Linked DNA regions of Homo sapiens. The protein of the gene in region 1 purifies or fractionates together with the protein of each later gene. This does not show direct contact. Each region holds a gene or a part of one and is shown on either strand. Other genes may lie near its edges. The genes, in order: RCBTB2 and NUDCD2.

Evidence for each region.
Region 2: the proteins of RCBTB2 (region 1) and NUDCD2 purify together in Homo sapiens (affinity purification with mass spectrometry; 2 studies listed by BioGRID and IntAct, with this or other methods). This does not show direct contact.

Annotation. Positions count from the first base shown.
Region 1 is NC_000013.11:48,508,870-48,512,697, forward strand, and holds part of RCBTB2 (RCC1 and BTB domain-containing protein 2), read right to left. Parts: intron 3,306-3,828; coding exon 3,147-3,305; intron 3,009-3,146; coding exon 2,901-3,008; coding exon of another isoform or gene 2,808-2,900; exon of another isoform or gene 2,289-2,807; intron 1,903-2,288; coding exon 1,760-1,902; intron 1-1,759.
Region 2 is NC_000005.10:163,449,889-163,453,716, reverse strand, and holds part of NUDCD2 (nudC domain-containing protein 2), read left to right. Parts: 3' UTR 1-3,828. UniProt on the Homo sapiens protein: May regulate the LIS1/dynein pathway by stabilizing LIS1 with Hsp90 chaperone.

The DNA.
Region 1 (3,828 bases):
AATCCATCTGCCCCAGTGAGAACCTGAATCAGAAGCCTTGGGTGATCATTCTGGATCAGGGACCAGCAGTGCAATGCAGCAAGTCACTGGTGGGCAATGACGGCAGATTCTGTGAGACCAGGGATGGATGTGCTAAAGTTCTGGGTAAGTGTAGGAGCACCATAAAAAGTAATGGGCCAGGCCAGGCGCAGTGGCTCATACCTGTAATCCCAGCACTTTGGGAGACCGAGATAAGAGGATCACTTGAGCCCAGGAGCTACCAGCCTGGGCAATGTGGCAAAACCCTGGCCCTGCAAAAAACACAAAAATTAGCTAGGTATGGTGGCATGCTCCTGTAGTCCCAGCTACTCCAGAGGCTAAGGTGGGAGGATCGCCTGAGCTTGGGAAGTCAAGACTACAGTGAGCCGTGATTGCACCACTGCACCCCAACCTGGAAGACAGGGAGACTGTGTCTCAAAAAATAAAAATAAAAAAATAACAGGCCATACAAATCCATCGTTTTTATTTCCATGCCATCTTTATTTGATCCTTTAACTCTGTTTTTCAGTTTAAATGTTAAGTGTCCCTACCAACTGAGGCACTTTTGTGGTTATTCAAAGCCTCAGGACTGTCCCTTCTCTTCTGAGGAGCTCTAAGCTACAAGATGTGTGAATGAACAGCTGCAGGCATCTACCTGCACCACCTCCTGCCTCCATTATTGTCCCTCCTCCCAATTCTGAAGGGGCCAGGGGTCTTAAATTTTAAGGTTTTTGGAGAAAAAAGTTTTATTTAACCTATAAAATTAACCTATGTTAAATTGGTTAAATAAAACTTTTAAAACATAGGTTAAAGAAAGTCAGCCAAGTTCACAATACCCAAATGAAAACTGAGGCAGTTGAAAAATGACAATTTGGTTCTTCATTTTCATTGTTAAGTATTCCAGCAGAAAATTAGAAAAGAACTGCATATAAATGTGAGCTAATCTGTTTGTCTACATATTTCTTTTAAAATTAAATATAATAAAGATATATGCAGTAAAAACAGCAGCATTCATTTCTACAATGACTGCAACCCTGGTTTAAAAGAAAAGATAGTGAAACGTTTTTGCTCTACACTACTATCAGGAAATGAAAAGTGGAAAGGCAGTGATCTGACCATGCTTGAGAAATTCCAAAGGCTTTCAAAAATATCAGAATAACGTGGAAACTAATTCTGGATGTGCTAATTACATAACACAACCTTGCAAACAAGTGCACAAAAGTAAATCTTAATTTCCTAACCATTTTACTCTTCCTCGTAGTGACAGCTTGGGAGTTAAAGTAATGAAATAACCCTATCCTTCTCAACTGGCAAATTTCCATGTAGCTGAGTGACCAGCTTTATACCCCATGCAAGGTACCTTTTCCTAAGCCAGGGAAGAGCGACCTTGAATGTTATTGACACCCCCTTAAGAATGTAAAACAGGAAAAGGAGGAGGGCAAAAGGGTGATTTGTAAGGCAGAAGAGTAACAGAATAGCTGTTGCAAGTTTAGTCACTGCAGTTTGCTTAGAATAGCTGTTGGAGGTATAGATGAAACATGGGTAAGTGAAAATAGCATATTTAACATACAATCAACCTCCCCAACAATTCCAAAGCCAATTTTTCTAAAGGAATAAATACTCTTGTTAAATAATATTCTAACACTAGCAGTACATTCCCCACCATTCTCTATATATCTAAGTCCTGTTTAATCACAATCACCAAAGACCAGTGTGGGGACTGTGAAAATGCCCGTGTTACCTGTCCTTTTCCACAGTGACAGGAGTAGGATAGGACTGGTTGCTTTTATTGCCAGTGCCCAACTGCCCATAAGAATTGGCGCCCCAAGCATACACTTGGCCTTCATCTGTTAATACTAATGTGTGTGCGTAGCCACAGGCGACCTGGAAGGAAAAAAATCCACTCAGGACTGCAAATATAAGTAATTATTTCACTGCTTCCACAAAGTAGGTTAAGAATCAAAAATGAAAAAAAAAGGAAGAGGCAGCCTACCCGTAGGAGAGGCAAGCATTAAGTTAACCAACATCCTTCCAGAACATGTGGGCCAGAATTGCAGTAAGATTGCCATGAGTACCCTGGCGTGAGCACCTGCCCCAGTTCACTAGAGCTTTAATACTCACAGAAATCAAGGGGTATGAGGGGAATGTAAGAAACAGACACTTGTATTTTTTAAATAATTATTTTCTTTTTTGATTATAAAAGTAAAACATGTTCAATTTGAAAAATATAGAAAAATATAAATATAAAAGTACTCTGAATATCAGAGGCATTTTTTTTCTATTTCTATATAGACATAGAGATATGTACCTATAGCATTTTTTTACTGACCATGTTGTATAAGCAGTTCTGTATCTTGCTTCATTTTACCATTACACATAGCAGTTTTCCATGTCATTAAAAATTCTTTGTATACAATACATCATCTCCAGCATATATACTTGGCATAATTTATCTAATCATTAACTTACGATTTGATTAGTAAATTCTGTTACACCTATTTTTTTTATTAAAGTTATCCTCTTTTTATATGTATATGTATCTTCTTAACTAATTCTGTAAGACAGTTACAGGAATTGTTGGTTCCTCAGGGAAATTCCCTAGGAGTAGAACTACAGGTCAAAGGGTATAAAAGCTTTTAAGCTTCCTCAGGAAAGCTTGTAACAATTTATATTCCAAAAGGTATGTGACAGTGCCCTGGAAGAGAAATTTTCTGAACAGCTGCAATTTAATTCAAGGAAAAAGAGACTTAACCTTTACTTTAATGAAGACATCCAAGCAGCTAAACTTTTCATCCTGCCAACAAATCTATGTTTTTAATACATTGATATCTTTGCCAGCGAAGACTTAAAAATACACGCACACAAACTGACAGTGGACGTACCCTCTGGACACGGATGCCTTGCAAAGCTGCCACTCTGCAAGGGGTTGGCTGGTTGCCACTGTTGCCGAGTCCAAGCTGCCCGTTTCCGTTGTAACCCCAGACATAGACCTGAGAGAAAATGAGACCCTCAATCCTCTCAAGAGACAAATGGCCAGCAAGCTGTCTGTTATGTGGGACATACCATACTGGCATGAGACTGATGTGGCAAACACGGTTTTTAAACAAGATGTAAAATAACTTCCTTACCTCCCCCGTGTCTACTACTGCCATGCAGCACATCTGCCCACATGCTATGGTCACAACTACTTTATTTTGTAGGCAGCCAGTGACTCTTCGAGGGATTGGCTGATTAACTGTTGATCCAGATCCTACCTGCCCAGAGTTATTATAACCCCAGGCAAATACCTGTTTAAAGGAAAGATCAGTAAATGAAACAGATTAATTTATAAACTGTCTCAACTGGACACTGACATGTACTTGTGGCACCGAGTCTTTCCTCTCAAAGTGCTTCACATTCATAAATCCTCACAACACAGGCAGAGAAGTGTTTATAAAATGCATTCTTATACAATGTACATGATTTTATACAATTAGGTTATTGGTGTTATCTATACAAACAGTAATAATTACTATTAAATAAAATGTAACACAAAAGTATCTACTTTGCCCCAGCCATCTTTTCCAGCATTTGGGGATTTTTCTTATTGCAAATAACCTCTTTACTACAGCAACAGAGAAGGAACAATACCTCCTTTTAAATTTTGCAATTATGGAAGACCTTACTACGTACAGGTAAATGTCACAACATCAACACCCTGACTGTGAATTGCTACCAAAAATAAGGCTGAATTTGAGGGAGGTGGTTATTTTAATCAAATGATTGTATTTCCAGGACTACTATAGAAGTCTACATAATCTTATTGAAAAA
Region 2 (3,828 bases), on another chromosome or scaffold:
TTTACTAATTCCATATTTAACCATATTTTTAATACAAAAGAACATTAGAGTATAGATCATGTGAAATGAAGGGTGCCTTTGGGGAAAATTAACTTTTTCTTTTGATAAGTATGATATTCAATAAAATTTTCTAAATAGGAATTGTGTACCCCTTTGTCTAAGTATAACAATTCACACAAAATTATAGTGCTGAAAACAATTTTAATAAAGGAAAAAGTCCATAAATGTATTTTAAGTAAATTAAGAGTTAATGTAAATTTCTTAATTAGAATATTATTACTTGAGGGATTACTTTATGTCAAGAAGTTTAAAAATAGTTAAAACCCTAACAATAGAAGTGGATTAACACAAAAGAGAAGTGTGATCATGGTAATTAGGTGAGTCCTTTGTGGCAGAAAGCAAAGTAAGGTCACTAATTGTATATCAGTGGCATCATTTTGATTGTAAGTGATTTAGGCATATAGGTAGGAATTGTCTATAGACATTTTATTCAATATCCTATTTATGTCCTTTTTATTTTTTGCCCTTTTTAACTCTTGAAAAAATTTTAAATCTCATGCATAGAAAAGTTACAGATAATTTTTTTCTTTCTGAACCATTTGTGATTTAGTTGAAGACATGATTCCTCATTACTGATTACTATCTGCTTCAAATTATCTTACATGACTACAATGCAACCATTAGAATCAGGAAATTTACGTTGACACATTACTACCCTCTAATCCTCAGATCTTCACTTCATTCACATTGAACTGATTGTCCCAATAATGTCCATATAGCAAGAGGATCCAGTCAGAATCATGCCTTTCATTTAGATGTCAGCTGTCTTTAGTTTACTTCATTCTGGAACAAATTCTCATTTGTTTCCTTTTACAACTTAGTACTTTTGACAATTATGGGCTAGTTTTGTAGAACACCCCTTATTTTGAGTTCTGTCTGATACTTCATGATTAGATTGAGGTTATTCATCTTTGGCAGGAATGTGATAGAAGTGCATCCTGTCATTGTTTAATAATTTCAGTTTGTCTCATTTCTGATGGTGTTTCTTAGATGACTGATTAAGGTAGTGTCTGCCAGACTTCTCCACTGTAGTTATTTTTATAATTATTTCTTGAGAAGATAGTTGCAAAATACTACCTTGTTTCTGATCAGACTTTAAATTTATCGTATCTCTATAAACTCATTATTTTCTATTTTATTCAGCAGGTTAAAAAACCTATTATCATTACATTGGTGCTCAAAATTATTGTACATTTGGCTGGTAGAAGTCCATTCTGGGTGGCCTCTGTGTCCTTCTGACACATTCCCATCATTATTCAATGAATTTGTTACTCTCTGGCATAAGATATACCAGGCTTCTCATGCTGTCCTCGACCTAACCCAAGAATCAGCCATTTTTCCGTAGAGCCTGGGTTCTCTTTAGTGAGTAATATTTAAAAGCCAAGATCTGTGCTAGTGTGCAATTGCCGTTGGTGTGTATATATAATGCATGTCTTTACATCTATATTTCTGCATCTATGTATATTGAAAACCATGAATTCACATATAAATTCTGATCCCATGGGCTTCATTTTCATTTTTTCCTTCTCCACATTTATAACCGTTTTCAGTACCAGTGAGAAACCTGATTCCTATTTGATTATTTGTGGGGTTTTTTTTTTTTAAGGTGGAGTTTCACTCTTGTTGCCCAGACTGGAGTGCAGTCGCGCGATCTCGGCTTACTGCAACCTCCGCCTCCTGGGTTCAAGCGATTCTCCTGCCTCAGCCTCCCAAGTAGCTGGGATTACAGGCATGCGCTGCCACACCTGGCTAATTTTTAATTTTTGGTAGAGACGGGGTTTCTCCATGTTGGTCAGGCTGGTCTCGAACTCCGGACATCAGGTGATCCGCCCGCCTGGGCCTCCCAAATTGCTGGGATTACAGGTGTGAGCCACTGCGCCTGGCCTGATTCTCTATTGTAGGTCATCTCCCCACATGAATGTCTTCCTCACCCTGCTTAGGCTTCGCATCCTATGCTGAGCAGGAATGTCCTCCTCATCCTGCCTGGACCCTAATACCTCACTCCAGGCCATGGCAGTCCATTCACCCTGTGATTCCTATCTTGCTCATTTTAGGAATGAATTGTCGGGGGAAGAGGCTATTTTTCTTTTAATTTTATTCTCTTTGACATTTAACAAAATTTTTTGAGTAAAGTAAAATTAACTTTTTTGGTGTATGGTTTGGTGAATTTTAAGTATAGATATGTGTAAACACCTCCACAGTCAGAGTATTGAAGAGTTCAATCACCGTAAAAACTCTCGTGCTCTCTTTGTACTCTACACACCCTACTCCCAGCCCCTAAACCTTGGAAACCACTGATCTAATCCCCATCTCCATATTTTTGTCTTCAAGCATGTTATAAATGGGATCATATATAATTAAGAAAAACGCTTTATTGTAACAACATACATTTCACCCATTTAAGGTGTGTAATTCAGTAGCTTTTAGTATATACACAGATAAATGCAACCATTCCAATAATCAATTTTAGAATGTTTTCATCACCTCAGATAGAAACCTTGTATAGTTTAGCTTTTATCCTTCTCCTGTCATCCCCCGCCATCCATACTACCTCTTTTCATCTCATAGATTTCCTTATTCTGGACATTTCATGTACATGGAATCATAATACGTGGTCTTTGGTTACTGGCTTCCTTCACTTTACATGTCTTAAGAGGTTCATCTATATTCGAGCATGTATCAGCACATTCATTAGTATGTCTGAAAATACTTCATTGTATGGCTGTAGCACTTTGTTTATACATTTGTAAGTTGGACATTTTGGGTATTTCCACCCTTTGGCTGTCCTGACTAAAGCTGCTATAAACGTGTACAAGTCTTTATGTGCATATGTGTTTTCATTTCTTACCTAGGAGTAGAATTTTTAGGTTATATGATAACTATGTTAATCATTTGAGGAGCTGTCATTGTTTCCCAAAGCAGCTACATCTTTTTACTTTCCCACCAGCAGTGTATGCAGGTTCCATTTTCTCTGCATCCTTGCCAATACTTGTTTACCTGACATTTTGATTTTAGTCACTCTAGTGGATATGAAATGGGATCTCTATCTAGTTTTGGTTTGCTATTCTCTGATACTATGTTGAGCATTCTTTCTTGTGCTTATTGGCTATTTGTGTATCTTCCTTAAAGCAGTGTTTATTCAAATTATTTACCCATTTTTTTAGTTGTCTTATTGGGTAGTAAGAGTCTTTATATATTCTGGGTACAAGTCTCTTACCAGGTATATGATTTGTAATTTCTCCTATTCTCTCTTTACTTTGTTGATAGTGTCTTTTGAAGCACAGACTTAATTTTGATGAAGTCTTATCCATCATGCCATTGGTGGATCATGTTTTTGGTGTCATGTCTAGGAACCTTAACCCCAGGTCATGAGGAATTTTTCTTTTTTCTTTTTTTGACTCACATTCTCACTCTGTCACCCAGGCTGGGGTGCAGTGGCACAATCTCCACTCACTGCAACCTCTGCCTGCTGGGTTCAAGTGATTCTTGTGCTTCAGTCTCCCAAGTAGCTGGGACTACAGGTGTGCACCACCACTCCCAGCCCATTTTTTTTTTATTTTTTATTTTTAGTAGAGTTGGGATTTCACCATATAGGCTAGGCTGGTCTTGAACTGACCTCAACGGATCTGCCCGCCTCAGCCTCTGAAGTGCTGGGATTACAGGCATGAGCCACCGTGCCCGGCCTATGGATTTTTTTCTTCTAAAAATTTTATAAATTTAGTTCTACATTTAGATCCGTGATCCATTTTAGGTTAATTTTTGTATAAG